6 linked regions of the Homo sapiens genome follow. The protein of the gene in region 1 interacts with the protein of each later gene in a pairwise test. Each region holds a gene or a part of one and is shown in the gene's direction. Other genes may lie near its edges. The genes, in order: UBXN2B, MEOX2, UBXN6, PAX6, MEOX1 and CRX.

The links.
Region 2: the proteins of UBXN2B (region 1) and MEOX2 interact in a two-hybrid assay, tested with the Homo sapiens proteins (one large-scale study listed by BioGRID).
Region 3: the proteins of UBXN2B (region 1) and UBXN6 interact in binary tests that used the Homo sapiens proteins (3 or more experiments, as listed by UniProt).
Region 4: the proteins of UBXN2B (region 1) and PAX6 interact in binary tests that used the Homo sapiens proteins (3 or more experiments, as listed by UniProt).
Region 5: the proteins of UBXN2B (region 1) and MEOX1 interact in binary tests that used the Homo sapiens proteins (3 or more experiments, as listed by UniProt).
Region 6: the proteins of UBXN2B (region 1) and CRX interact in binary tests that used the Homo sapiens proteins (3 or more experiments, as listed by UniProt).

The regions. Positions count from the first base shown.
Region 1 is NC_000008.11:58,444,892-58,450,491, forward strand, and holds part of UBXN2B (UBX domain-containing protein 2B), read left to right. Parts: intron 1-1,015; coding exon 1,016-1,177; intron 1,178-2,497; coding exon 2,498-2,660; 3' UTR 2,661-5,600. UniProt on the Homo sapiens protein: Adapter protein required for Golgi and endoplasmic reticulum biogenesis. Involved in Golgi and endoplasmic reticulum maintenance during interphase and in their reassembly at the end of mitosis.
Region 2 is NC_000007.14:15,609,737-15,614,808, reverse strand, and holds the end of MEOX2 (homeobox protein MOX-2), read left to right. Parts: intron 1-2,197; coding exon 2,198-2,422; 3' UTR 2,423-3,597; downstream 3,598-5,072. UniProt on the Homo sapiens protein: Mesodermal transcription factor that plays a key role in somitogenesis and somitogenesis and limb muscle differentiation. Required during limb development for normal appendicular muscle formation and for the normal regulation of myogenic genes.
Region 3 is NC_000019.10:4,446,533-4,452,132, reverse strand, and holds part of UBXN6 (UBX domain-containing protein 6), read left to right. Parts: intron 1-1,302; exon of another isoform or gene 1,303-3,717; coding exon 3,718-3,815; exon of another isoform or gene 3,816-4,507; coding exon 4,508-4,583; exon of another isoform or gene 4,584-4,945; coding exon of another isoform or gene 4,946-5,028; exon of another isoform or gene 5,029-5,212; coding exon 5,213-5,297; exon of another isoform or gene 5,298-5,413; coding exon 5,414-5,600. UniProt on the Homo sapiens protein: May negatively regulate the ATPase activity of VCP, an ATP-driven segregase that associates with different cofactors to control a wide variety of cellular processes.
Region 4 is NC_000011.10:31,791,138-31,794,322, reverse strand, and holds part of PAX6 (paired box protein Pax-6), read left to right. Parts: intron 1-208; coding exon 209-291; intron 292-520; coding exon 521-671; intron 672-769; coding exon 770-885; coding exon of another isoform or gene 886-1,059; exon of another isoform or gene 1,060-1,118; intron 1,119-3,185. UniProt on the Homo sapiens protein: Transcription factor with important functions in the development of the eye, nose, central nervous system and pancreas. Required for the differentiation of pancreatic islet alpha cells.
Region 5 is NC_000017.11:43,641,333-43,645,949, reverse strand, and holds part of MEOX1 (homeobox protein MOX-1), read left to right. Parts: intron 1-2,289; coding exon 2,290-2,462; coding exon of another isoform or gene 2,463-2,473; intron 2,474-3,917; coding exon 3,918-4,040; 3' UTR 4,041-4,617. UniProt on the Homo sapiens protein: Mesodermal transcription factor that plays a key role in somitogenesis and is specifically required for sclerotome development. Required for maintenance of the sclerotome polarity and formation of the cranio-cervical joints.
Region 6 is NC_000019.10:47,824,082-47,829,681, forward strand, and holds part of CRX (cone-rod homeobox protein), read left to right. Parts: intron 1-5,600. UniProt on the Homo sapiens protein: Transcription factor that binds and transactivates the sequence 5'-TAATC[CA]-3' which is found upstream of several photoreceptor-specific genes, including the opsin genes.

The DNA.
Region 1 (5,600 bases):
AGAAGCTTTTTGAATGGAAGTAAGAGTCATGATGATTTAGATTGGACTAAAGCCCAAATGCTCATAGAACTTTTATACTAGTAATATGTAGATACATGCGTGTCTTTCTTCCAGAAGAAAATAATCTATAGGAAACCATCTAAATCTCAGAGTTCAAGAGAAAAAACTTCAAGACTATCAAAAATTCCTTAAGATGACTGAGAAAATTGAGCTAAATTTATTTGAATTATTTAACCAAAAGAGCACTCCTCTATTTTTGACATTCACTTTTGGCATATACTGGCTGATCATCCTGCTAGTGTTAGAAGGGGCTAAGACAGCAATGCCAGGGTCACTAGTAACCAAGTTCTAATGGTAAGATATTCTATCAAGCTTCATTATGAATTTATTGTCATGTAATAACATTTTATTCCTCAATGGTACTTAGAAGTTATTTCTCTTTTGCAAAGCAGTGCTTGAATCAGATGTGTTTAAATGATATTAACCAAGTCCAAATTAAATGAATTTAGTGCTGATAATATGTTCACAATAGCTGGCACCCGTTGAAACACTGTGTTCTAGGCACAATATTAAGGACTTACTGGTATAATATACCTTCATAACATAGTATTATTCCCTCACTTTATAAATGATAGAACTGGGATTCAAAATGATTGATGTACTTACTCAACTTTACACAGTTGACATGGCTGGGATGTGAAACCATGTCTGTCTGTGCTCTTAATGATTCTTTGACCCTAACTCAGAGTTGCTCGTATTTCTAAATAAAACTGGTTTGCTAAACAGTGATGAAGTTGCAAACAGTTAAATGAGGAAAGGATGCAAAGTTAGGCTTTTATGAGAGATTAGATAAACCAAATAAGAATCGTAGGATCCAAAATAACTTTAATATAATGAAAGAGGTTGAAAGAAGTATAGGAGACTCAAATGAAGCCATGTTCTAAGTGTTTATCGCTGTCTTCAGTTTGTCATATATTTTACACATTCAGATTTGTGTTTAATTCCTCTTTTTTAGCCTTACACCTGAAATAGTCAGTACACCTTCCTCTCCAGAAGAGGAGGATAAATCAATACTTAATGCAGTTGTTCTTATTGATGATTCAGTGCCAACAACAAAAATTCAAATCAGGTTAGCAGATGGGAGTCGTTTGATACAAAGATTCAATAGTACACACAGGTAAGCTTCTTTACCAACAGTGTCCTGTTTGCTGTTATATACACTGGATTGCTTATCTAAGTAGAACTGTATGTGACTTGAGTAATGAAGAATATGATATTCTTTAGGTTTACTTTTGAAGTAAGTTTTTGACAGAAGAAACATTTTTAAAAGGACAATAGCTGTGTTTAAGAAATGAAATATGTGGTATTTAAACAGTCTCTATAAACTATCCAAATACTAATGTGATCTCAGATATCACACAAAAATAAATTAAGAACTATAGTTTTACGTTGTTACTAAAACTATATGAAGTCGAATCAGATTTAATTTAACATAGTAAAACCTTTTGGGGACTTTATTCATTTAAAAATTTGTGATAATTTTGATTGGGATTAATTTTCTGTATAGCAAATACTTCATAATATAAATGTGTATTGTAAATCAAGTTTAATTGTACTTTTGTCAAGAACTTCAGATAGTTTTAAATGTTTCTTTAATATTGACTTGTACATCAACATTTGATTTGTCCATTGAAGTAAGACCCTAATAGATATATTTATGATTTTGGTTGAATTACTATGTTTATGTGAGAGTAATTTTTTAAAATTATTCCTATGATAGCACATTTCATAGTTTTAGACTCACCTTGCCACAGGCCAATCATAGTTACCTTTTTCTGGGTCATATGCTGCTAACACATTTTATACTCCGAAAAAAGTACAACCTGCATTTTTTTTTTTTTTTTTTTTTTTTTTTTTTTTTTTTGAGACAGAGTCTTACTCTGTCTCCCAGGCTGGAGTGCAGTGGCGGAATCTCAGCCCACTACAAACTCCGCCTTCCAGATTCAAGCAATTCTCATGCTCAGCCTCTTGAGTAGCTGGGATTACAGACAGCCACCACCATGCCCAGCTAATTTTTTCTGGTTTTAGTAGAGACGGGGTTTTCACCGTGTTAGCCAGGCTAATCTTGAACTCCTGGCCTCAAGTGATCTGCCCACCTCTGCCTCCCAAAGTGCTGGAATTACAGGCGTAAGCCACCGTGCCCAGCTGGACCTGCACTTTTAAAATAACAACATTAGTACACTTACTTTATTCATAACTTACCTGAAGATTGTTTCCATTTTACAGGAAAAGTAAATGTTAAGTACACACTAAAGTTACTTTACATTTTAACTGAAGCCTAAGATAAATCCTTCAATTGAAATACTATATATTAAAGAAAGTTACAACACCTTTATATAAAGATTAAAATTTTGTGATTTTTATTATGATTCAGTTTTAAGTTTACATGAAAATATGATTTTTTATATTACAAATTATTTTTGTCTTATTTCTTCAGGATCCTGGATGTCCGGAACTTTATTGTACAGTCTCGTCCTGAATTTGCGGCTCTTGACTTTATTCTTGTGACTTCATTTCCGAATAAAGAGCTAACAGATGAAAGCCTGACACTGCTAGAAGCAGATATTCTTAACACTGTGTTACTCCAGCAACTAAAATAATATTGTTCCTGTCCATGCAGTAGCATGTGGGAATAGATGATGTGCCGTATTAATAAGGACAATACTTCAGCATTAAAAACAGCCAAATTATTTTTATTATTTTTACAGATAAATTTTGGTTTTATTGTTATTCTGTCTTCCAATCTGAATATAGACAAATTTGGATTAGGAATAGACCTTGAGATAAGTATGTTTGAGTTTTTAGTTGAAGGACTGGCTTATGTTGATAGTTTTTGGATTTCTAGGCAAATGAGTTGTTACATGCTTAGTGTTAATGTAACAACATTTGTTTGCAGAGAAAAATGAACAAAACCCCTTTTTGATAAATGCATTTGGTAAAATTTGCACTAAAGTTTCTTGATGCAGCATTGACCAACAGCCATTAAGAAATCTTTTGATCAAATAAGTTGAAAATTTGTCTATAATATATACTGAAACGTGTCTTTTGATTTTGAAATTGTTTGATCATACAATAATTATTTCTCCTATTAAGATTTTACACATCCTTTTTACTTACTGATTTAGATATATTACTAGTATCAGAAACTACAGTTTTGCCTTGTATTTTACAGAATTATGACTGTTGTGAACTTAAACAGAAACACATAAAGGTCAGCAATTCTTTTTTTTTTTTTTTTTGATATGGAGTTTTGCTCTTGTTGCCCAGGCTGGAGTGCAATGGCATAATTTCTGCTCACCGCAACCTCCGCCTCCCAGGTTCAAAAGATTCTCCTGCCTTAGCCTCCCAAGTAGCTGGGATTACAGGCATGCGCCACCATGCCTGGCTAATTTTTGTACTTTTGCTAGAGACAGCGTTTCTCTGTGTTGATCAGGCTGGTCTCGAACTCCGAACCTCAGGTGATCCACCCACCTCAGCCTCCCAAAGTGCTGGGATTACAGGCATGAGCCACCACGCCCAGCCTAAAGGTCAGCAGTTCTTAAGAAGATATGGTAAACAGCAACAATATTTTAAAATCAAGTAATTACAGTTCCTCCCAGAGCTTGCGTTGATCACATTCATTTATTCATTCAACACATTTTTCTAGGAAACTCACTGTATACACTAAACACTATTCTGTGTGCTCAACCTAGAATGTCTTCTCCAGAACAAGACTAGTGTAGAAATACAGGAATGTAAATTCTGTCAGACGGACTAGATCTAAAGAATTACCAGCATAAATGTTTGCATTTCTGCTGAAGCCAGAAGCTTTTCCTTCTTCCTAGACACCATTTCATCCTTAATTATTACTTCTGGTTAGTTTTCCATTGCCACCATAACAAGTTACAAAATGTGGCTTAAAATAGCACAAATTTATTATCTTCACAATTCTGTAGGTTAGGAGTCCAGGTTAAGAGTTTCGCGGTGCCAAGATCAATTTGTTGGCAGGGTTGCATTCTGTTAGGAGGCTCTACAGGAGAATCATTTCCTTGTCATTCCACCTTCTACAGGACATCCTCATTCCTTGGCTTGTGACCTCCTTCTTCCATCTTAAAAACCAGTGCTGTTTCATCTCTATGACCCTTCTGTTACCACATCTCTCTGACACCAGTGTGGAGAGGTTCTCTGCAGGACTCATGATTAAATGAGGCCCACCGGATATCCAATCTAGGCTTATCTCCTTGTCTTGAAATCCATAGTAACCTTAATTACATCTGCAAAATCTCTTTTACCATCTAAGGTTACATACAGGTTTGGAGATTAGGACATTAACATTTTACATGGAACATTATTCTTGCCTACTACAGTTCCCACCCACCCCCCGCTCCACTCCTGTGTTAAAGATTCAGATTCATCACAAATAAATTTACATCACTCATAGGTGCTCAAAAGTCACAATCCATTATTACAGCATCAACTCTAAATCCAAAATCTTATCTGAGTCTCACCAACTCAAAAGTCTCAAATCTCACATTGAAGCCATCTAAATTAAGTTTGGGAGAGGATCTGTGTGTGATTTCTGGGACATAATTCCAACTGTGCACTTGTGAACCTAGAAAACAAGTTATCTGTTCCCAAGTATGATGGCATGACAGGCAGACAATAATAGTTACACACGTTCCTGTTCAAAAAGCAGAAACAGATGGAAAAAGGAGCCATCAGCACCAATCAATTTACAAAACCAGCGAGGCACCCTTCTTTAAGTTTCAAGGCCTGGGAGTAATCTTCAGCTCACTGCTGTTCTCTGGGCTTGTTGACTGTCTCAGAGTCATCTTTACTTTTTCACAAAAGGTAGCACACGTTTGCAGCTGAGTATCAACTTATCAGTTTGTTCTTCTTTTATATTCTCTAAAGCTTTCTGTTAAAAATGGTGGTGCTTCTGCTGCTATAACGTTGTCAAGAAACTTGTGGGTCTTTTACATATGTCACAGGGATGCACTCATTTAGATAGGAGGCTCCTCACGTATCTTTCCTGGAAAATCCTGTCTCTGTTTTTGGCTTTTTCTGAAATAGCTGAGAGGATCTATGATTCACACCCTTAATATCTTCAAAGAGTCTTGTGTGTGACCTGATATTCAGACCTTTTGATGTTTCTGAAGTATTAGCAAAAGGTTATACAGCCATATCTTCATCACTTTCTCTAGAGTAAAGGCTGTCCTGACGGTGAATCTTAGTTTTAGTGGCTTTTGCCATTTGAATAGGCCGCGAATTTCCCAAATCATCAAGTCCTGGTTTCTTTATATTTAACAGGTCTTCCCTCAATCTACCTCTTTCCACATTTTACTATAATCAGCAAGAAGACAGCAGGCTGTACCTTCCACAGCTTGCTTGGAAATATCCTCAGCTAAATATTGAAGTCATCACTTAAAAGTTCTGCTTTACACATAACGGCAGGACACAACTCAGCTTAGCTTTTCGCCACTATGTAACAAGGACTCCTTTCCTCCACTTCTCCAGTAACATATTCCTCATTTTTTACCAACAGTCTATTCATGATGATT
Region 2 (5,072 bases), on another chromosome or scaffold:
GAAATTGAAATTATTTCTAAACTGAAAATAGAGAATATTCAAAATATTTCTAACGTAGAAGAATGAAACAGAACTATCCCTAGCAAATATAAAGGTTTATTATAAAATTATAATTAATAAGATAATGTGGTTTTATCAAAACTATAGAAAAATTAATAAAGGAACAGAACAGAATACAGCAATAAAGCTATGCATATATGGAAACTTGATTTATGAACACAGATGAAACAGTGATCACTGGAAAAAAGCTGGGTTATTTAATAAATGGACCTGGGACAATGTGTTATCCATTTAAAATAAAGTAAAGTTAAGCCTATTCTTCAGACTATATACTAAAATCAGTACTTCATTGATTAAGTACCTCAGTTTGAAAGGCAAACTTTTTTTTTCTTTTTGAGACAGGATCTTGCTCTGTTGCCCAGGCTGGAGTGCAGTGGTGCAACAACCACTGACTGCAACCTCAACCACTTGGGCTCAAGCAATCCTCCAACCCTAGCCTCCTGAGAAGCTGGGACTACAGGCACTATGCCATCCCACCCACCTAATTTTATTTTATTTTATTTTATTTTATTTTATTTTATTTTATTTTATTTTATTTTATTTTATCTATTTATTTGTAGAGACAGGGTCCCACTGTGTTGGAAAAGGCAACCTTTAAAACTCTTAGAAGAAGACACAATAGAATATCTTACTGGCTTCAGAAAATAGATTTTTTTAGAAAAAGAAAACACAAAACACTAGTCATAAAAGAAACAATAGATAAATTTAAACATATTAATTAATATTAAGAGTTTCTAATCATCAAAAGACACTCTAAGAAAAGGAAAAAGAAACAGCATACATTGAGAGAAGATAGATAGCAGCAGCCATATAACTGCAGTCTCCAGGGAAGTTCCCATGATATGCTTATCAGGACACAAATGCAAGAATGTCTATAGCAGCATTACATATAGAAAAAAAAGAATTCAAATATCCATGGATGGTAGAACAGAAAAATGGTGCTATATTGACAGAATTTGGAATATTATACAATGATAAAAAATAAATAAATAGAGTCTTTTGAATCAACAAAGATGTGGCAAAAAGCCTACACTTAGGAACATTCCATTGATAAACCTAACAAACAAATAAAATTAAAGAGTATAGTTTTAATATTACTTGTTATGAAAAAAATTTGTTTTCTTTTTTAAGAAAGACTTGGAGGTGACACACAAAATTCAGGCTTGTGGTACTTTTAGGTGGGGTAGACAGAGAAATACAATGTAAAAAGAACACTTTGCTTGCTAGAAGCTATAATTATGAGAAATGCAATGTGAAAGAAACAGATTTCCTCCTAAACAAGATGCAATAATGCCAATTATATTCTAGTTCTGATAATGTATAGACCTTTAATGTCTGTTTGCTGTTTTTTTTGTTTTTAATACATATATGTTATTTAAATATATATATTTATTTAAATGTATTAGGCAAATTCAATGAAGCTTTTAAAAAGAAAATACCTGTACAAAGCTGATGTGAATGATGTAGTATATAATCTTGGTGTTAGCATTTAACAAATGTTGAGAATTTTTTATTGTGACCATATTTTAAAGAAATCACTAGATCAAATATTTGCAAAGTAAAATAAATGAATTAAGGTAGAAAATAAAAAGAAGAGTTCAAAAGAAGATAGGCTCAGTGTGAGGTGGAATGGTCAAATAAAGATTTGTGAAAGCAGCAGTAGTTTCTGATGGCAGAGTATGGCCTTTCAGATGCCGCTTAATCAGTAGCTGCAGGAGCATGTTTTAAATTGGTTCAGGAAATGACAGCTGGATGTCAAATCAAAGAAGAACTTAGGAGTGGGGGGCTTTGACCAACACAAATATTATGTTAGCTCCAATTCACAGAAGCTCTTTATAGACGCAAGTGCTTTGAGTGCCTTAAATGACAAAGTTTTTGTTTAGTTCCATATTTTACATTGTATGCTGTAAAATACAAATATAGTACTTTGTATGCACCTTTTGAAACTTTAAAAATTATTATCATGAACATGTAACCTGATTAAATTCAACGTGGATTTATTTTTCTATTCACTCCTTCATGGTGTCTTTGTATAAGCCTTTGAGGAACTTCTTTTCATTGATGACACTAAGGAGAAAAAAATGTCACTTTAATTATCTCTTTTTTTCTGTTTGTTTGTTCCCTTTCTTGGTTGAAGGTGAAAGTCTGGTTCCAAAACAGGCGGATGAAGTGGAAGAGGGTAAAGGGTGGACAGCAAGGAGCTGCGGCTCGGGAAAAGGAACTGGTGAATGTGAAAAAGGGAACACTTCTCCCATCAGAGCTGTCGGGAATTGGTGCAGCCACCCTCCAGCAAACAGGGGACTCTATAGCAAATGAAGACAGTCACGACAGTGACCACAGCTCAGAGCATGCGCACTTATGATATAAACAGAGGACCAGCTCCATTCTCAGGAAAGAAATGTTGTGATGGCAAGCCTTACCCAAATATCGTTTACACAGAGAGATGACTATGGCAGTGATGTTTAATATTATTAAATCCAGGCATTTCGAATCTGTTTTTCATGATTTATAGAGGGTTTACACAAAGTGCCACTTATTAAAGAGCTTCCACAGTGAAGATGGAGAAGGTGAACTTGCTTTGAATATTCCAGATGTGTTTGGTCGTGCGTATGGCAGTGAGCAGGTATGTGTTTGCTTTTGCTTGCACTGAAAATTAAATTGCTATCAAGAGCAAACTATGAACGGTTTTTTATTCAAGATGTCTCCAGAGTGAAGATGCCGAGGATGAACTTGCATTGAACATTCCAGATGTGTGAGATCATGTGTATTACAGTGGGCAGGTATTTGCTTTTGCTTGCACTGAAAATTAAATTGCTATCAAGAATAAACCATGAAACATTTTATCCTGAACAGCCACAGTGCCTGAATTCACTCAAGTGGATAAAAAGTGTATTTTAACTCTGTATATATTACCCTTAAGTCATTTTCCTGTCTTCACTAATTTAGCAATGCATTCATATTAGCTGATGAAAATAGGCACTCACAATGACAACCAGAGCCAGTTTCTTGTCTTTTTTATACATTTTGTCATCCCAGAGACAATCAGTATGTGCTTACCTGTGTTCAAGTAGAGAAAAATACAGTAGAGTCTGATAGGACATATTCTTGTACCACAGACAAAACAAATCTTATGTTGCATTTACTATCAACTGCTGCTAATACGTTATTATAAAACTTACCTAGCTCCTGAATTCTTCCTATCTTATAGCTTAAAACAATTAGGATCATAGGCAAATCAGTTACCTTGCAGAAAGAGCTTTGTATGACAGACATTGTCTTATTTTATTTCTGTAAAATATTAGCTGTATGAATATGATTTAATTAACAAGAAAACATTTCTTCCTGATTGACAACAGTGTTAGACAAGGTGCAAAGCGAAACTGGTTGCTCAAGTTGATAGAAAACAAAATTCTGAATATCTTCAAATTAAATTCGGTAAAAACACATTATTTTTTCATATGTGATGTATTCATGCAGAACAACTATCTTTGTATTTTGTTTTTAAAATGTGTTTAATAAATGATCCTTTGTAAATAACTTTGGTCTCCCTACATTAATTTTCTTAATTTTTATAGATTTCAATATCAATGATTAACAAAGTCTCAAATCTATCTGCACTTGTGCAAATCCAGATGATTATAATTAGTGGATTATTTACATTTTTTCATTTCTGAATTTTTTTATTATGGCAGGAAAAAAATAAATCCTTGTGTAATCAAAGGGCGCCTAAGAATGGGCATATATTAAGCTATTTCTCTAATTTGAAGAATACAGTGAATGGATTTTTTTGTGTGTTTTATGAAGCCACAGATAAAAGTAGGAAAAAAGTATTAAATAATAGTATTCACCACAGTGAGGAAAATAAAATAGTCATACATTTTTAAAGTTATGTCTGATATATGTAAGTTAATCCAACAGTGGTTTTATAGTCTGAATATGCAGAGTCTCTGATGTGAAATATAAGCTAAAGAAGCTAATCAGAGTCCTCAGTTCTAATGGGACTAATGCAAGAAGTAAAGGATGCTATTAACATAATGTATTTTGCATCATGCATGATTGCACACGCATGGGGTGCCTTAGTCCTACTTATAGCTTTATCACATTGTTTTTCATTTGTTTCATATTCTAAGCAGAAATGCTTGGAAACATTGCCAGCCTTCCTCCCCTGCCTCAATCCGAAACAAATACAGAAAAACAATCAGTAAAAATTTCCAAAAACCCATCAGTTAATTGATTACACTTGCTTTAGAATGATCAGACTGACAAAAATTAATTTGATATATTTTAACTTAATCTAGCGTGATATATAGAGAGTATCCCAGAAATAAATAATTTTTTTGTATCACATTTTCCTTTCATGTAATACATTTTACCTCAGTAGTTGTCAGTATTTTAAAATTAACTGAGAATAGACCATTCGAATTGAGGTCTCCCAGGCATGAAACAGACACTTTTCCATTAATCACCTGAATTAATACAAAGTCTGCTTGTGCTGATGACATCTACTTGGGTGGACTGACTTTCTTACTGTAGAAGAGGATTTAAATTCAAAACATCTTGACAAATTAGTGAAGTGGGAAGATATGAATCAAATTGAGTTCAATAGGGACAAAGTGGAGGATAATTCATTTGGGCAGGAAAATAATTTCCAGAAATAAGAGAAAAGGACCCCTTAGAAGTAGCTAAAAGGAGAGCTAATGGTTGTAGCCAAATAGACGTAAGAATTCCAATGTAGTAAGAAAATGAAATAGGAAAAAGGGATTCCGAATAGATATAACATTCGGGAAATGGGAGGTTTTTGTATCATGGCCATATCTTTATTAGAGAATTGTAAGCAATCCTGAAATGAAATTTGATCCAGAGAACACAAAGTGGTAGGAAAGGCCACATGGCTGACTGAAAAGAGACATCACTTTCTTTATGATGAATTAAAATGATCTGCCTGCCGCATAAGACACCTGACACATTATCACATTGTCAACACACTGACAAACAGGGAAGCCAGAGTAATT
Region 3 (5,600 bases), on another chromosome or scaffold:
CTGACACCCAGGCTGGAGTGCAGTGGCGCATTCTCGGCTCACTACAACCTCCGCCTCCTGGATTCAAACGATTCTCGTGCCTCAGCCTCTCAAGTAGCTGGGATTACAGGCACCTGCCACCATGCCTGGCTAATTTTTGTATTTTTAGTAGAGATGGGGTTTCACCATGTTGGCCAGGCTGGTCTCGAACTTTTGCCTCAAGTGATCAACCCGCCTCAGCCTCCCAAAGTGCTAGGATTACAGACGTGAGCCACCACGCGTGGCCTGGTTGTTTTTCATAAAAGGTTAAGTATTATTTGCTTCAATACAGAAAGAACTTCCTACAAAATTAGCCAGGCATGGTGGCACATGCCTGTAATCCCAGCTACTCGGGAGGCTGAGGCAAGAGAATTGCTTGAATCCAGGAGGCAGAGGTTGTGGTGAGCCGAGATAGCGCCATTGCACTCCAACCTGGGCAACAAGAGCAAAACTCCATCTCAAAAAATAAAAACGTCCACAGCATTTTTTTCCAATACAGCAAGTCCTCACTTAACACCATCAATAGGTTCTCAGAAACTTCGGCTTTAGCCTGGGCAACATGGCAAAACCCTGTCTCTGCCAAAAACAAAAAAAAATAGCTGGGCATGGTGGCGTGCACCTGCAGTCCCTGCTACTCAGAAGGCTGAGGTGGGAGGATTGCTTCAGCCTGGGAGGTAGAGGCTGCAGTGAGCTGTAATCATGCCACTGCACACCAGCCTGGGTGACAAGTGAGACCCTTTCTCAGAAAATAGTAAGTGGCTGGGCGCGGTGGCTCTTGCCTGTAATTCCAGTGCTTTGGGAGGCTGAGGCAGGTGGATCACCTGAGGTCAGAAGTTCCAAGACCAGCCTGGTCAACATAGTGAAACCCCCTATCTACTAAATATACAAAAATTAGCCAGGCGTGGTGACAGGCGCCTGTAATCCCAGCTACTCAGGAGACTGAGGCAGGAGAATCGCTTGAACCTGGGAGGTGGAGGTTGCAGTGAGCCCAGATCACGCCATTGAGCTCCAGCGTGGACACTGGGTGACAAGAGCGAAACTTCATCTTAAAAACAAAACAAAACAAAATAGTAATAGTTCCATAGACTCTCCAGACTCACACCCACTCCAGCAGTGTGTGCAAAAGCACCCGTGTCCCCATCCTCTCACCATACTGTAAATCACCAAACTTTGATCTTTACGCCTGTTGGTAGGTGAAAATAACATCTCAGGATAGAGTTAATTTGCACTTTCCTTATTTTGGATTGGCCATGTTTCATATGAGAATGCGTCCTTTCTACATTATTTAGTAGATAGTTTGTCTTTTTATTAGTGATTTGTAGGCACTCTTTTTTTTTTTTTTTTTTTTTTTTTTTTGAGACAGAGTCTCGCTCTGTCGCCCAGGCTGGAGTGCAGTGGCGCCATCTCTGCTCACTGCAAGCTCCGCCTACGAGGTTCACACCATTCTCCTGCCTCAGCCTCCCGAGTAGCTGGGACCACAGGCGAACCGCCACCACGCCCAGCTGATTCTTTGTATTTTTAGTAGAGACGGGGTTTCACCATGTTAGCCAGGATGGTCTCGATCTCCTGACCTCGTGATCCGCCCGCCTCGGCCTCCCAAAGTGCTGGGATTACAGGCGGGAGCCACCGTGCCCGGCAGCACTCTTTACATATTAGGCAATTTAGGCTTTTGCCTATGATATGAGTTGCACATGTTTCCCTCTAGTTGCTTCTATGTTGGCTCTGCTTATGGTCACTTTGCTGTGTAGGATTTTTTGATCTCTGTATAATTAAATGTGTCAGTTTTAGTTCATGGCTTTTGGGTTTGGGGTCATTCTTAGAAATGCCTTCCCCATTTCCATGCTGAGAGAATTCTTTTGTGGCCTCTCCAGTGCTTTTTTTTTTTTTTTTTTTGAGACAGAGTCTTGCTGTCACCAGGCTGGAGTGCAGTGGTGCAATCTCAGCTCACTGCAACCTCTGCTTCCCGGGTTCAAGCAATTCACCTGCCTCAGCCTCCCAAGTAGCTGGGACTACAGGTGCACGCCACCACACCCGGGCTAACTTTTGTATTTTAGAGATGAGGTTTCACCATGTTGGCCGGGATGGTCTCGCTCTCCTAATCTCGTGATCCGACCGCCTCGGCCTCCCAAAGTGCTGGGATTCCAGGCATGAGCCACCGTGCCCGGCCTCCAGAGCTTTTCTTCTGGCTTCTCCTTGACTGCTTGCTTGTTTCCATGGTTGAAGCTTTGATCCAGCTGGAGCATGTTATTATGTAACATGGTGGGATGGAGCTGATGTAATTTTTTTTTTAGATCTTGGCTCAGCTTTCTTCTCAGCCCCACCTGTCGAGAGCACCTGTCTTTTGCTTACAGCTGTGAAATCCCACCTTTCTCACAAAGTACATTCCTGTATGGATTTGGACCCCTTCCTGGCTGCTGTTCCTTCGTCCCTTGTCTGTGCATGTACCCAGCTCCTGACCTAAGCCTGGCAGCCAGTCGCCCAAAACGCCCGAGGCCCGCTTTTGGAGCTGACACGCTTCCCTTGGCTGGTGTGCTGTCCCGGGCGCTCTGATCCCAAGGAAGCTGTTGTCTTGGGGACATGCCCATCTGGCAGCTCTGCCTCTCTGCATCCACGTGCTCTGTCCCGCTCCCCACATCATCTCAGCAACTAAACCGGCAGACTGGGCCGGGTCCCAATTTTCAGTTGGCATGAGCCCCGGCTCAGTGTGTAGGTCATTGGTCCGTGTGACGCAGGGGGCTGCTGAGGGACCCTGCTGTGCAGTTGAGGGTGGGGGGTGGTGGGTGGAGCTCTGGGCTGCCTGGGCAGGTGGCCCGAATCCTGACACATGGCCCTGGGCTGCCCTTCTGTTCACCCGCCCTCGTCTGGGCAGCCCAGGGAGGTGCGGGTGGCAGCCCTGCTTCCCAGGCCATGGGTGGCTCTCTGGGTGTGGCCGTGTGTGATGGCTGTGCCGAGCGTGGATTTGTGCCCCAATCTTTTCCAGGTCTTAGGGTACGTACTGTTCTCAGCCTCTCCATGCTGGGACGCTGTTCGCAGTCAGCAGGGCTGGTTCTGGGAAACCCCCAGAGTTCCAGCTATGACTTCTCCCCTCCCCCGGTAACATAGGTGGATAGGTGGGACCTCGGGGAGGGGCAGGGGCTGGGGGTATCCGTCTTCCAGCTATTGAGTTTCAGACATTGAGGGTTGCAGACTCATTTGTGTCCTCTCTGCCACCTGCCATCCCTGTGACCCTGGACGATGGGCCTCTCGGTCTCTTTGTAAACATGAGGCCCGGGAGTGGTTCCAGAACGTCCATCATGGGGCTGCGAGAGCAGGAGGGATGGGGCGTCCATGGTGGCGGGAGGTTCTGTAAGTGGCGGTGGCCTTGATGGATCTCAGCACTGAGGTCGAGTTCTAAAGCCAGAGTGTGAGGCACAGTTCTGTCGCGTCACACTGGCTTCCAAGTCCCATGGATCTAGCCTTGAGAAGGCGGAAGGGGAGACTTGAGTTCTGCTGGGTCTTGGCTGCGTCGCCTCTGCCCTGGGGCGTGGGCAGGGCTGCGGTCTTGGAGGGTCTCTCTTTTCCTTTCTGTGATGAGCGCACAGCTGGGGCCGCTCCAAGCCGCTGTTCTGCCTTCCTTTTCCTGCCCCTGTTACCTGGGCAGCGGAGGGCCGTGCGGCCCGGGCTCTCAGTGAGTGGCTTTCCCTGCTTCCCTCCTCCCAGCACTTCTCCACCGACCCAGTGGCCGCCTCCATCATGAAGATCTACACGTTCAACAAAGACCAGGACCGGGTGAAGCTGGGTGTGGACACCATTGCCAAGTGAGCGTGTGGCCCCTTTGCCCTGCCTGGCCCCTCCAGCTCATCCCAGCACCCCTCCCACTGGGGCTGTCACCCCCTCTGGCCCCCTCATTACCTGCTGAGGTGGGTTGGGAAGGAGCATAGGCCGAGAGTGAGGCAGCTCCACCCAGAGGCCTCAGGCAAAGGGCTGGGCCTCCTTGGGCCTCAGTTTACCCGTGTGCAAAATGAAGGTGTTGAAGGAATCAGGGGTTTCCCACCCTGGCTTCCTTGGGGAACATGTGGAGGAGGCAGGGTCCCACCCCACTCCCCGGGTCTCAGGATCGGGGGCAGGCCTGGAGGTCCACGCTGCCCGCCAACGCCGAGGGAGCACCCCGCAGGAGCCCCCTGCTGGCACTGCGGCCCTTCAGCTCTGGCTCTCCACTCTTCCGGCACTGTGGCTTCCCCACCGCTGTGGTTAATTGTGCCCTTCCAGGGCTGGTGGGACGGTGAGGGGTTCCGTGGGGCTCCTGCTGGCACCAGGGGTGGGCTCCATGGGGTGTCCGAGGTGTGCCTTCCACCCGGAGATGGTCTGCTGCCCTCGCGTCACTGGGCCGCTTCTTCCCTCTGACTAGAGGCCAAGTGTGGCTGAGCTGCTGTTACCTGGAGCAGGAGGCACAGAGGGGCCGGGTGGGCAGCCTGGGCTGTGCCCCACTCACCTTCTCCACCTACCCCAGGTACCTGGACAACATCCACCTGCACCCCGAGGAGGAGAAGTACCGGAAGATCAAGCTGCAGAACAAGGTGTTTCAGGTGGGCGTGCCTTCTGGCCCCCGGGGCCCAGGCTGGGGGTGGGGGCAGCTGGCCTGCAGGAGCCGGTGGTGGCCCACACCAGGCGGTGGGCTCCCTGGAGGAGCTAGCGAGAGTTGAGCCACAAGCAGTGAAGGGTTCGGCCAGTAGAAGGTAGCAGGACAAGATGGAGAGCAAGACTTTTATGCACCGGTCACCCCAAATCAACAAATTCTGCCTCTCCTCACCTGCATCCTTTTCCTCCTCTTCAGCTGGGCTTGTTTGGGAACATGTCGACTCTGGGGAGGTTTCTCATGCAAACCAGATGTCTGGTTCTTCTGGGGGAAAGGGCAGGGACTGGGGTCCTGGGCGGTGTTAGCCTCGCATCAGGCCCCAGCAGTGTCTGGCTCCTCAGCCTCACTCTTCGTGCCTGGTTGTGACTCTTTCCTCTGTGCAGAGCTGTTGGAGACTCCACAGCCCCCACCGTAGAAAAGCAGGTTTGCATCCAGCACTGAGGCACCCCCAGGGCTGGGCCCCATCCAGGGGTCGACAGCTGCTCCCAATAGCGAGAGCCGGGCCCCTGGACTGGGTGGGGTGTGGCCAGGCCATGGAGGAAGCCAGGGGCCCCCAGTGACGCCCATCTCCACCCCCAGGAGCGCATTAACTGCCTGGAAGGGACCCACGAGTTTTTTGAGGCCATTGGGTTCCAGAAGGTGTTGCTTCCCGCCCAGGATCAGGGTAAGTGGACAGGGCCTGGCTGAGTAGGGAATGGGGACGAGGGGCCTCGGGGCAGGAGGGCCCGGCTTGGGGGTCTCTCCATTGCACAGTGACACCCATGTCCTGCCACGCTGTAGAGGACCCCGAGGAGTTCTACGTGCTGAGCGAGACCACCTTGGCCCAGCCCCAGAGCCTGGAGAGGCACAAGGAACAGCTGCTGGCTGCGGAGCCCGTGCGCGCCAAGCTGGACAGGCAGCGCCGCGTCTTCCAGCCCTCGCCCCTGGCCTCGCAGTTCGAACTGCCTGGGGACTTCTTCAACCTCAC
Region 4 (3,185 bases), on another chromosome or scaffold:
AGAAAGGTCACTGAATGCCATTCCAAAGAAAATTTAACTTGGTTCTGGTGGGAAAGTTCTTCCAAGTACAGTCAACACTAGAAGCATTTTAAAGGGAATTGGTTGGAGGTAATGGGAGTGGGGAGGTGGGAACCAGTTTGATGCACAGTTTGGTCAACATATTTTGTGTAGTTCTGGCACAATATGGAAAATCAACTTACTCTTTCAGAGTTTGAGAGAACCCATTATCCAGATGTGTTTGCCCGAGAAAGACTAGCAGCCAAAATAGATCTACCTGAAGCAAGAATACAGGTACCGAGAGACTGTGCAGTTTCACACTTTGTGATTCATACCATTTGTCTTTCCTAGAGACAGAGGTGCTTGTACAGAGTACTATTTATTTATAGGACTAATATAATAAAAAGGTTCAGTCTGCTAAATGCTCTGCTGCCATGGGCGTGGGGAGGGCAGCAGTGGAGGTGCCAAGGTGGGGCTGGGCTCGACGTAGACACAGTGCTAACCTGTCCCACCTGATTTCCAGGTATGGTTTTCTAATCGAAGGGCCAAATGGAGAAGAGAAGAAAAACTGAGGAATCAGAGAAGACAGGCCAGCAACACACCTAGTCATATTCCTATCAGCAGTAGTTTCAGCACCAGTGTCTACCAACCAATTCCACAACCCACCACACCGGGTAATTTGAAATACTAATACTACGAATCAATGTCTTTAAACCTGTTTGCTCCGGGCTCTGACTCTCACTCTGACTACTGTCATTTCTCTTGCCCTCAGTTTCCTCCTTCACATCTGGCTCCATGTTGGGCCGAACAGACACAGCCCTCACAAACACCTACAGCGCTCTGCCGCCTATGCCCAGCTTCACCATGGCAAATAACCTGCCTATGCAAGTAAGTGCGGCTGGTGGTGGCCTGCATAACCCAGGCCCCAGAGAAGTGAGGAGTGGCTCAGGGCCTGCGGACCTCATTGGCTGTGTCTGCACCCTTGAGAGCTTTTCGCACTACAGTGATTGGCTTGACCAGTCAAGTCGGAGACAGTCAATCCCATCACTTTTAAGTGATTGACTCATTAATTCATGCCCTAAAAAAATGAGTAATAAAAATCTGTCCAGTTTTGTCAGGTTGATCTGCCTTTTATTATACTGTTACCTTGATAATGTTGGGTGGTGGTGGGGCATGTTTTGGGTACCAGGGAGCCTTGCACCAGAAAGTGGAAATAATGCTGGCACATTATCAGATAGCAGATTAGTAGTTTAAAATTTGGGTTTATATTAATGTGTTTGTATGCTAAATATAGAATCTGTGCACGCATTTGGGGCATTACTTTGGGTATATGTGATAAACTAGTGAGAAAGAAAAAAGGATCAGAAATGGGATTCATATTTACATGGTGAGATATACATAATATAATGAGAATGCTAGTTTTCTGTCTGTATCTACAATAAGAAAAGGCATAGCAGGTATTTGCTGGAAATTTAGTGTGTCTTTGCTGTGAATGGTGTGACGAGTTTGTGGCCCTCCTAGCTGCCTGGGAAGCTTGATGCTATTCACTTGGTATGACAGCCTGCCTCTCCTCTTAGTTCTGTCCCAAATATCTATTAGCCCCTACATTTAGAGGTCCTGCACTAGGTTCACCCTTTATGATGTAAGTTGGATAAGGCAGATGGTTTGTACTAGACCTTTGTTGCTGGATGGATTCTTGATAGGAAAAATGTCTGTCTTCTGGTAGGCCTTTCCCAGTGGTTTTCCTAGAACTCCTGTTTGTGCAACAATTAGAGATATTAGATGGTACGATATTGGCCAGCATGAGCCTCTGCTGGAAACAGTTCTGGGGCTACACTGATTGTTTATTCTCCATTGAACATTTTTTGCTGGATTTCAAATCCAAATAACAGCAAAATAAATGTTTCACAGTCTTCAGACTAATATAGGAGCAGCTAGATAAGCAACTTCAGAGGAATTATTCACATGTTTATTTTTATTGCATCTGGATATTGTTGGCCATAGTGCAATTGATGTAAATTAAGGGATTAACAGCCCATTAGTTGGTGTTGCTATAACTGCGTTGGAATTTTCCAGAAGTCAGGTTGCCTAGAGGAACTCATTGCAGGAATTAGAAACAAATGCAAGCTGAAATTCTGGCAGGCCCTCAAGGCCTGTTTGCCTCTTTGAACTTGATGTTAGCATTCATCATCTGACTTTAATAAGGCCACAGAGTGTCTCGTTCAGTTTCATGTATTATAACAACATCCAGGTTTCTGTGAAGATAGCAAAATGTGTATGTGAGAAAATAATAAGACGAACAAGTAGATGCTGCAATTATATTAGGGCTGTTTCCACATACAGAGCGGTATGGGGAATCAATCTATTTCAAACACTGACTTTTAAAAATTACATAATTTGTATAATTCAAAAAGTACATGCATTCATTAAGCATAAAGAAAATCAAAATGATCAATAACTTTACTCTTCAGAGAAAACTACTCTTTGAATTTTGGAGTGGGTGAGCCCGATTGTCTATCCATTTATTCATTCTCTTGACCAAAATCATCATTTTACAAATGGTGGGTGTCTTCCTCTGGACCTTCTCTGATATGCTTCCCTCTCTGAGCATATGGATTTTGGAAATTAAACATTTCTCCAGTTTGCAGAGAAGAGAAATGATAGTATACTGTACTATCATCTGACCTGCTTGTTCCCGACACACTTCTTTTAATTCATCCCAAGTTTGCTGCCATGGCATAGTACCATGAGAGCTCATGAGGCGTTTTGTTAGGAGAAAGGTTTACCTCCTCAGTGCTGCCATTCCGAACAGTTCGAGGGTAGCAACAGTTTTCTAGTTATAAGTCAGTCTGGGCTTTTGGGTCTGTTAGGAAGTCATGGTTAATTCTCAGGATGGAGGTCGTTATATTTACTAACACTTCTGATCACTTTAACTTGGGGTCATTACAGATCTGCTTCTTCAAAGAATCTTTAATCCCATCAGTGAAAGGTTCCCAAGGTCCCTGAACCATACTTTACTGAGAGCTCCTCCCACTGCTCTCTGTCCCAAAGCTTGAGATATGGGCTCTGGGGGTCATAGGGTTCCCAAATAAATCCAGATTTGCAGGGAGAGGGGATGTGTTTTGATGAAGGTCCTCATGCTATAGGTTCTTCAAAGATGCTAGCAGAGGTTAGAGACAAAAATCCTA
Region 5 (4,617 bases), on another chromosome or scaffold:
GCAGCGCGAGGTGGGCCAGGCGCCCAAATCACTTTACCGTGCGCCTCCTGCTAGAGAGTCGCCCAGCCCAAGGCAGTGGGGCGCGGAGGCGGAGGACGGGGAAACTGAAATACAAAGGGATTGAGTGGAAAGCAATAGAGGGGGGTGCTGGGAGGGGAACCAGCTAGGCTCAAAGCTCCAAAGTGGATCGCCGGGTTAATGTGGGGTTCCTGCCTCGCCACCCACTCCCAATGCGGCTGCTTAGCCGACTGCATAGGCGGCTTCTCTGCTTTACACTAGGGGGTCTGAATTCCCCAGCCCAGTCCCCCAGGTAGCTTAGACCCGGCCTCTGAAAACAGAAGATCCCTCCTTCCAACACTCCTCGCCGGCAAGGCAGAGATGGGTCTTTCAGGGAGCAGGACGTTGGGCCGCAGGTTTCGGTAAAGCACCTCACTCGGAGCCACAGCCTCCATGTCTATAAAATGAGGAAAATGGACCGGGCGCAGTGGCTCACGCCTGTAATCCCAGCACTTTGGGAGGCCAAGGCGGGCAGATCACGAGGTCAGGAGATCGAGATCATCCTGGCTATCACAGTGAAACGTCGTCTCTACTAAAAATACAAAAAAATTTGCCGGGCGTGGTGGCGGGCGCCTGTAGTCCCAGCTACTCGGGAGGCGGAGGCAGGAGAATGGTGTGAACCCGGGAGGCGGAGCTTGCAGTGAGCCGAGATCGCACCACTGCACTCTAGCCTTGGCGACAGAGCGAGACTCCATCTCAAAAAAAAAAAAAAAAAAAAAAAGATAATTAATGAAGCAAACGTCTTTTAAATGTTAGAGCCCCGGGCTCCTGCAGCCATTCCCTGGCCACGTGGCATGCATTGCGAGTTAATTGTGTAAGTGTGTGGTCTTCTTCCCACCTCCTCTCCACCCACCACCTCCATTCATTAAAGTGAAGGTAGAGCTGCCTCCCACCCGTCTGCTCAAGAGATAACCATTCAGCCCCTTTTATTTGTTCAGGACTTTACCGTTTGTAAGCCCTTCCTAAATTTTTTTTTCAAGACGTAGTCTTGCTCTGTCGCCCAGGCTGGAGTGCAATGGCGTGATCTCCGCTCACTGTAGCCTCCGCCTCCTGGGTTCAAGCGATTCTCCTGCCTCAGCCTCCCAAGTAGTTGGGATTACAGGGGCGTGCCACCGCGCCCAGCTAATTTTTTGTATTTTTAGTAGAGACGGGGGTTTCGCCATGTTGGCCAGGCTGGTCTCGAGCTCCTGACCTCGTGATCCGCCCGCCTTGGCCTCCCAAAGTGCTGGGATGAGCCACCGCGCCTGGCCCCTACATACTTTTCATTTGAACAGTATGTGTGTGTCAAATCGCCTGAATTTAATTCTTGTCTCCCACACCCCCTGGCTGAATAAACTTGGGCAATTTGCTTAACTTCTCTGTGTTCGTTTTCTGGTCCATAAAGTGATACTAATACTAGAACCACTTGGTTGGGCTATTGAGGAATAAGAGGCTAATATATGTCAGGTACAGCACCTGGCACAGAGTGTGTCCCCTGACCCTGTTGGCAGTTATGACTGAGCCCCGCTGAATCTAACATGCAGCCTGCTTCAGAGGGCTCCAGATGGCTTTCCAGACTTGGCCCTCTGGGGCAGATTCTGATTCCGTAGGTAGGTCTGGGGCAGGCCTGAGATCCTTCAGGTCTGAACAGCTCCCTGGTGCTACTGATGCTGCTGGCACCCAGGCACTCCTTTGAGTGGTGAGGTCTTAGAGCAGCGGACTTGACTGTGCACCAGACGCATCTGGAGGGTTTGTAAAAATAGATTGCTGAGTGCCATCCCCAGAGTTTCTGACTTAGTAGGTCTGGAATGAGGCTAGGATTTGCATTTGTAACAAGCTCTCAGGTAATGCTGATGCTGCTGATCTGGGGACCATAGTTTGAGGCTTTGTTTTAGAGCATCTCACCCCTCAAGCTTATGGCCACCAGTAATGTCATGCTGGGGGGTGGGCTGGGGAGTAGAGGTCATTAAACAGCCAAGAGTAGCTTCTTATGCTTTGGGAATAAAAGAAAGTTTGGGGTGGGGGGAGGGTGGGAGGCAGGTACCTGAGATTGGAAACCAAAAATAAAAAATCTTCCCAATTCTAATATGGGTAAGACACCAGAAGGAATAAAAAGGACAGTGTAGCTTTTTTCTCAGCATCCTGTAAAAATAAGGGAGACTGGTAAAGACTGCCTAGTTGCTCAAGGGCAAAAGAAAGGGAATGGAGTCTCCCTCAGCCCATGTCTTCCTGTTTGGGGTCCTCTCTCCCCAGACAACCAGGAGAACAGAGGGAAGCCGGAGGGCAGCAGCAAAGCCCGCAAGGAGAGGACGGCCTTCACCAAGGAGCAGCTGCGAGAGCTGGAGGCAGAGTTTGCCCATCATAACTACCTGACTCGGCTCCGCAGATATGAGATTGCGGTAAACCTGGACCTCTCTGAGCGCCAGGTGCGCCCCCGGTGGGCCCCTCCTCTTCTTTGCTCTCTCATCTCCCTCCCTTCCCTCCTTTCCCACCACCCCTCCCTGGACCTTCTCCTTTTTCTTCCTCCAGCCAGTCCAGCGGTTTTCAACTGTGGCCACACCTGAGAATAGCCTGGGGAGTTTTGGGTTTTTTTGTTTTTTGTTTTTTGAGACGGAGTCTCGTTCTGTCGCCCAGGCTGGAGTGCAGTGGCGCGATCTTACTGTAACCTCCACCTCCTGGGTTCAAGCAATTCTCCTGCCTTAGCCTCCCAAGTAGCTGGGCTACTGGCGTGCGCCACCACGCCCGGCTAATTTTTGTTTTTTTTTTTAGTAGAGGCGGGGTTTCACCATGTTGGCCAGGATGGTCTCAAACTCCTGACCTCAGGTGATCCGCCCGCCTCGGCCTCCCAAAGTGCTGGGATTACAGGCGTGAGCCACTGCGCCCGGCCCCTGGGGAGATTTTAATAGTGCTGATGTCTGGGCTCCACCCCTAGGGATGATTTTAATTGGCCTAGGATGGGATACAGGCCTCAGAATTTTTCAAAGGCCCCCTAGGTGATTCTCACATGCAGCTAGGTTGGGACCTACGGTCTGGCTATTCCCAAATTTGAGTATATGTTGGAATCCCCCAAGGCACTTGTTCAAAATGTGGATTCTGGAGGTCCGGAGAGAGATTTTACCATAATGAGTGGGCCTGAGAATCTGTATTTCTAGTACATTCTCCAGGTGATCTGGATATGCAGCTGGTTCCTGGGCACACTTTGAGAAAAACTTCCCTGGCCCTTTGTTTTGGACTTTCCCTTCAGCCACCCCACACCCCCACACCCATGCTCTGATACGGAATAATAGTAATAATAACCGTAATATTTGATAGCAGATTTCAGTTGACAGAGCACTCTGCCAGAGGGCTGGATATTGAATCAGAAGACTTAGATTCAAATCCTGCCTCTATCACTTTTCCTAGCCCTGGGACCTCTGGGTCTCCATCTGTAAAATGGGATCATAATCCTGCAGGTAATACTCAAGCTCAGATGAGAAAATGTGCTTACCAGAGCTATCTAAACCAAAAAGTGCTCTATAAATGTGCCTAAGGATAAGGCTGATGACCTCTGCTCCCAGACCCTTGGGGAATGGAGGTAGGGGGCAGGGGGACCTGGCACAGGCAGGGCAGGGCATGTGAAGGGGGTGGGGCCAATGCAGAGTGCTTTTAGAACATGTTCCCCCGTCTGGGGCTTTATCCGAAGCCACAAGACAGACCTCTGGGCAGATTGGTATGTCCTCTCTTCGGTCCTAGTTCCTGGGGCCTTTGAGGGAGTAGGGAGTGGTAAGTGATGGTTTCAAGCTGGGGTCCCTGGAGTTACACCCTGGCTAGCCTAAGCATTGACATGGGGAGGAGGTCACACCGGCCCTGGAGTGACCAGGCTCCTTTGCTTCCTCCCCCAGGTCAAAGTGTGGTTCCAGAACCGAAGGATGAAGTGGAAGCGTGTGAAGGGAGGTCAGCCCATCTCCCCCAATGGGCAGGACCCTGAGGATGGGGACTCCACAGCCTCTCCAAGTTCAGAGTGAGATTCTGCATGGAGGAAAAATGACTAAGGACTGAGCCCCCTACCCAACTACCCCCACCCCAATCCCACCTTCACCCTCTTCCTTCCCCAGCCAGGGCAGCCTCTCCACATCTTTCCCTGACTCTTGGATATGAAACTGCCCAGCATTCCTGGGAGTCTTAGGATTTTCTAGGAAGTTCTGTCCAGCCTCTTAGCAGCCTCTTCCCTAGGGCCTTTGCTCCCACACTCTCATGGAATCAGACAGAGATCCTACCGGGCCGGATGAATCTGGAAACAGCTTCAGAGATACTGCTTCTCAGCGTCTCTTGGCTGCCACCCATGCCTCCTCCTACCGCTGTTCTCCTAGGTCAGCCAGGCCTCCTCCTGGTCTGGACACCACCTGGCCTGGTGGGAGAGGAGCTTTGGAACCAGCTGGCGACTCGGAAAGTAAATGCTTCAAAAGGAAGGAAATGACAGAGACACACGCCCTTGCCCACCTTCCTCTGTAGGCTGCACATCTGAGGCTTTGGGGCCCCTTAGTTGTCCCGAAACCCCAAGAAAAATCAGAATGAGGAGAGTCAAGGACAGCAACTCAGCTG
Region 6 (5,600 bases), on another chromosome or scaffold:
GCCATATTGCAGGCCTGGCCTGCAGTGGGAGCAGGGCAGGAGACCAGCCTCATTCTGTTTCTAGGGTCCCTAGGTAGACTTGGGGGTGAAGAGCGGGGCTCGGGGGCCAAAGAGATTTAAATTTTACCCCTGGTTCTTCCACTCATCACCTGTGTGACCTCGGGAATTGACGAAACCTCTTTCAGCCTCAGTTTCCTCCTCTGAGAAAGGGACCTCTGAGCTCCGTGGGGCTGTGGGGAGCATCCTAAGAGGCCATATCGCCGGGTGATCAGGAGGGCACCGGCTCCGGGGCAGGTGCTGGCCCAGCTCTGGCTCTGCCGCTGACGTGCGAGACAGAACTGGAGACTACACTTCTCTCAGCCTCAGTTTCCTTCTCTGTAAAGTGGGGATGATACCAGAAGCCGCCTGGGAGGAAGTTTCCATGGAGTTACTGTTGCCTGAGATCTTGTTCCCAAGGTCCATGGTGCATGCAGTGTGTGAGAAGCTGGGGCCCCCTGGAGGTCCTTAAGGTCATCAGCCACCTGAACTGTGGGCACCTCCCTCCCTCCCAGGCTCAGTCTCCCCCGCTGTAGAATGGAGTTATCTGCATGTCTGCCCCACCAGGTGGCTGTGAGCATTCAGACCTCACCTGTGGGAACAACTGCTCAGCTGGGAACCTGGGACCCAGTGAGTGCCGAACCCCACAGCTCTGAGAATCAGCCTGGGGCCTCCCAGGTTGATCCCCAGGGCAGAGACACTGATATTCTTTGTTCCACCCCTTGAAATCATAAAACATCAGTGTCTGGAAATTGTTGTCATTGTGAGATCTTGTATATAAAGCCTGGGCCAAGTGTCTGCCGAGTGATGAATTCCTGGACATTCTTTTTTTTTTTTCCTCCCCAGGAGACAGGTCCTCTTTCGATTGATTGATTTTTTTTTTTTTTTTTTGGGATGGAGTCGTGCTCTGTCGCCCAGGTTGGAATGCAGTGGTGCAATCTCAGCTCACTGCAGCCTCCGCCTCCCGAGTTCAAGAGATTTTTGTACCTCAGCCTCCCCAGAAGCTGGGACAACACCATGCCCGGCTAATTTTTGTATTTTTAGTAGACGGGGTTTCACCACGTTGGCCAGGCTGGCCTTGAACTCCTGACCTCAAGTGATCCGCCTGCTTCAGCCTCCCAAAGTGCTGAGCCACTGGCCTGGCCTGTTTTGTTTTGTTTTGAGAGAGGATCTTGCTCTGTTGCCCAGGCTGGAGTGCAGTGGCTGGATCATAGCTCACTGCAGCCTCCAACTCCTGGGCTCAAGCGATCTTCCCACCTCAGCCTCCCAGAGTGCTGGGATTACAGGTACGTGCCACCACGCCCAGCCCTCACTGGAGGCCCTTCTGTCATCAGCTGCCTCAGGTTGCTGCCAAACCCAGGGAAAGATTTCAGTGGATGTTCAATATTATTATTGTTATTATTCTCTGCTGACATCTTGTCTAGGCAGCACTTTATCATTATTATCAGCTGTTTGATCTGGGGCCCACACTTTCCTCCTGCTGAGCCTCCTCTCCCCTATCCGTTAAAAGGGATGATCCTGGCCAGGCACTGTGGCCCACGCCTGTGATTCCAGCACTTAGGGAGGCCGAGGTGGGCGGATCACCTGAGGTCAGAAGTTTGAGACCAGCCTGGCCAACATGGAGAAACCCAATCTCTACTAAAAATACAAAAAAAAAATTAGCCAGGCATGATGGCACATGCCTGTTGTCCCAGGTTGGGAGGCTGAGGCAGAAGAATCGCTTGAATCCGGGAGGTGGAGGTTGCAGTGAGCCAAGATTGCGCCACTGCACTCCAGCATGGGTGACAGAGACTCCGTCTCAAAATAACAACAACAACAAAAACAAAAACCCAGAAAGTGGTGATCGTAAATGTGAGCTTTCTTGGCTTTCCTGGAAGGTTAACTGCTTAGCCAGGCAATCTGACTCAGATTTGACGGCGAAGACAATGAAAGTGTGTGCTTTTGTTCCAGGCCCTGCAAATGGTCCCCAGTGGGGCAGGTTCACCAGTTTCCTTGTCTCCACTCTCTGGAGGTTCATATTTAACATTATTGGTTTTTGGAGAAGTGGGAGAGGACAGAGGGAACCCAGGTTAGGGGGCTGGGGGAATAGGACCTTCAGGAATTACTCTAGCCTTGAAATCCTGGATTCTCCACTGCCAGCCTGTGTGTGATCCCGGGTAAGTCACACTTTCGAGCCTGAAGATGTTCTCTAAACTGTAAGCATCAGGCAAAAGCAGTGTCTCATGCCTGTAATCTCAGCAATTTGGGAGGCTGAGGCAGGAGGATCTGCTCAGGCCAGGAGTTCAAGACCAGCCTGGGCAACATGGCAAGACACCTCTCTCTACACAAAAATTTAAAAAATTAGCTAGGCGTTGTGGCACACCTGTAGTCCCAGCTACTTGGGAGGCTGAGGTGGGAGGATGGCTTGAGCTCAGGAGGTCGAGGCTGCAGTGAGCTATGATTGTGCCACTGCACTCCAGCCTGGGTGACAGAGTGACATGCTGTCCCTAAGACCAAAACCAAAACCAAAATGTAAGCATCATAGTAATACAGTCTCTACCTCCCAAGGTTGTGCTGGGGATTTAATGACTACCTGTATAGAGAAGGCTTGTGTATTAGTTAACTATTGCTGGGTAACACTTATCCTAAAATTGAGCAGCTTCAAACAATAAACATTTCTGATCTCTTATAGTTTCCAAGGGACAGGAATCCAAGAGTGGCTTAACTGGATTATTCCGGCTCAGGGTGTTCCATGTGGTTGTGGTCAGATGTCGGCCAGGACTGAAGTCACTTAATGGCTTGGCTGAGGCTGGGGAACTAACCTCCATGGTAGCTTACTCTCATAGCTGTTGGCAGGAGGCCTCATTTCTTTGCCACATAGACCTCTCCGTGGGATGGCTTGAGCATCCTCACAACATGGCGGCTGGCTTTCCTTAGAGCTAGCCTTGGAAGCCACGCTCTGTCATTTCTGCAATATCCTGTTGGTTACACACGTCAGCCAGCTTGTTAGTAGGGACTACACAGGGCATGAATATCAGGGGGTAAGGATTATTGGGAGTTACCTTGGAGGCAGTTTGATTTTGGGGATTTAATGTAGCTGCTTTTGATTTTATTGTCAGCACTGAGCCTTCTCGTGACATTCCTACCAGGTTTTACTTGTTCTTTCTGCTTTTCTCCATGATCAATCTGCTATGGTCACACAGGGTGCCTTGTTTCTTCTCCAACAAGACCAAGTTGGAGACCCTGTCTTGCTCAGGGTGACGGTGTGAGATTCCAGCCTCCAAGCCTTTGCACCTGCTGTTTTTTTAATTTTTTTTTTTTGCCTGGAAATCTCTATTCCAGATCCACACAAATTCCTAGATGCCTCACCCACCCCAAATGCCTTCACTCTCATAACAACCTGTTTTATTTTCCTGGGAGTTCTTGAAACTTTCTGAAGGCTTTTTTTTTTTTTTTTTTTTTGACAGAGTCTTGCTCTGTTGCCCAGGCTGGAGTGCAGTAGTGCCATCTCAGCTCACTGCAACCTCCGCCTCCCGGGTTCAAGCGATTCTCAAGTAGTTGGGATTACAGGCACCCATCATCATGTCTGGCTAATTTTTGTATTTTAGTAGAGATGGGGTTTCACCATGTTGGCCAGGCTGATCTCAAACTCCTGACCTCAAGTGATCCTCATAACTCAGCCTCCCAAAGTGTTGGGATTACAGGCAAGAGCCCCTGCTCCTGGCCATGGCATCTTTATTAAAAAAAAAAAAAAAAAAAAAAAAAAAAAAAAAAAGGCAGGGCGTGGTGGCTCACGCCTGTAATCCCAGCACTTTGGGAGGCCGAGGCGGGTGGATCACATGAGGTCAGGAGTTCGAGACCAGCCTGGCCAACATGGTGAAACCCCATCTCTACTAAAAATACAAAAATTAGCCAGGTATGGTGGCAGGCCCCTGTAGTCTCAGCTACTTGGGAGGCTGAGGCAGGAGAATCACTTGACCCTGGGAGGCAGAGGCTGCAGTGAGCCGAGATCAAGCCATTGCACTCCAGCCTGGGGGACAAGAGTGAGACTTCATCTCAAAAAAAAAAAATTTTTTTTTCCTTGTTTGTTATTGGTTTCTCTAGGAACGGAACCAAGAAGTTCAATTCTATGAGAACAGAGAAGCTGCGGTCTTATTTCTTCCTATATTCCTAGTTCCTAGAGCAGGGAAGGCATTCAAAAAATATTTACTGAATGAACAGTAGAATCTCAACTTAAAATAAACAGAATCTGTCCCCCTCCTCATGTGAGGGATGAGAAGGAAAGGACAGTGAGAGGAACGGAAGAGTGGGAGCTCACAATAAACACCATCCATTTTTAATTCTTTTTCTTATGTTTCAAATATTTATTGGGGGTGCTGGGGACATGGCAGGAACCGAGATATTACCAGTCCCTGAACTCAGGTAACTGATAGAATTTGAGGGAGAGAGATAGATAAACAAACATATAAATATGTCGTTTAATACAAGCTGTGTCTTGAAGAAAAGGAGGTAGGGAGCGTGTGTGTGTGTGTGTAAAATCCAGTTTAGGGGCGTAGGTTGCTTTCTCTGGGGAAAGTAGCTGAGCTGAGACGTGGAGGAGAAGGGGTTAGCTGGTGAGAGGGGCTTTGGGGTGGGGGAGAGGCGTTCCTAGCCCAGGAAACGGCTTATGCAAATAGCTGTGGAGGGTGAGAGGTTTTCTGAGTCCATCCTAATGAGGGCAATGAGGAACCCTCAGAGGGTTTTCATGTTCTGTTTGCTTTTTTGAAGATTTTATTGTTGTTTTTGCTTTTGACAAGAACACACACACACACACACACACACACACACACACACACACACACACACAATTAAAAAGTAATCCAAACTATAGAGACAAGATATGGCTTTAGCATTCCTTCCCAGAGGCAGTCACTGGTGCCAGTAGCTTGCTTCCTTCCTGGGAATTTTCTACGCATATACAAGTGTATATTCTACACATGAGTAAAATCAATGCCTCATTTTGTTTATTAATTCATAATTATAATACTTATTATTTTTGAGATGGAGTCTCACTCTGCCTCCCAGGCTGGAGTGCACTGGCATAATCTCGGCTCACTGCAACCTCCACCTCCCAGGTTCCAGAGGGTCTCCTGCCTCCGCTTCCCAAGTAGCTGGGATTACAGGCATGCACCACCATGCCTGGCTAATTTTTGTATTTTTATTTTATTGTATTTTTATTTTTAAATTTACTTTATTATTATGACTCTTTTTTTGAGATGGAGTTTCGCTCTTGTTGCCCAGGCTGGAGTGCAATGGCGTGATCTCGGCTCACTGCAACCTCTGCCTCCCGGGTTCAAGTGATTCTCCTGCCTCAGCCTCTGGAGTAGCTGGGATTACAGGCGCCCACCACCACGCCTGCCTAATTTTGTATTTTTAGTAGAGACAGGGTTTTGCCATGTTGGCCAGGCTGGTCTTGAACTCTTGACCTCAGGTGATCCATCTGCCTCGGCCTCCCAAAGTGCTGGCATTACAGGCGTGAGCAACTGCACCTGGCCTATTTATTGTTATTATTGAGACAAGGTCTTCCTCTATTGCCTAGGCTGGTG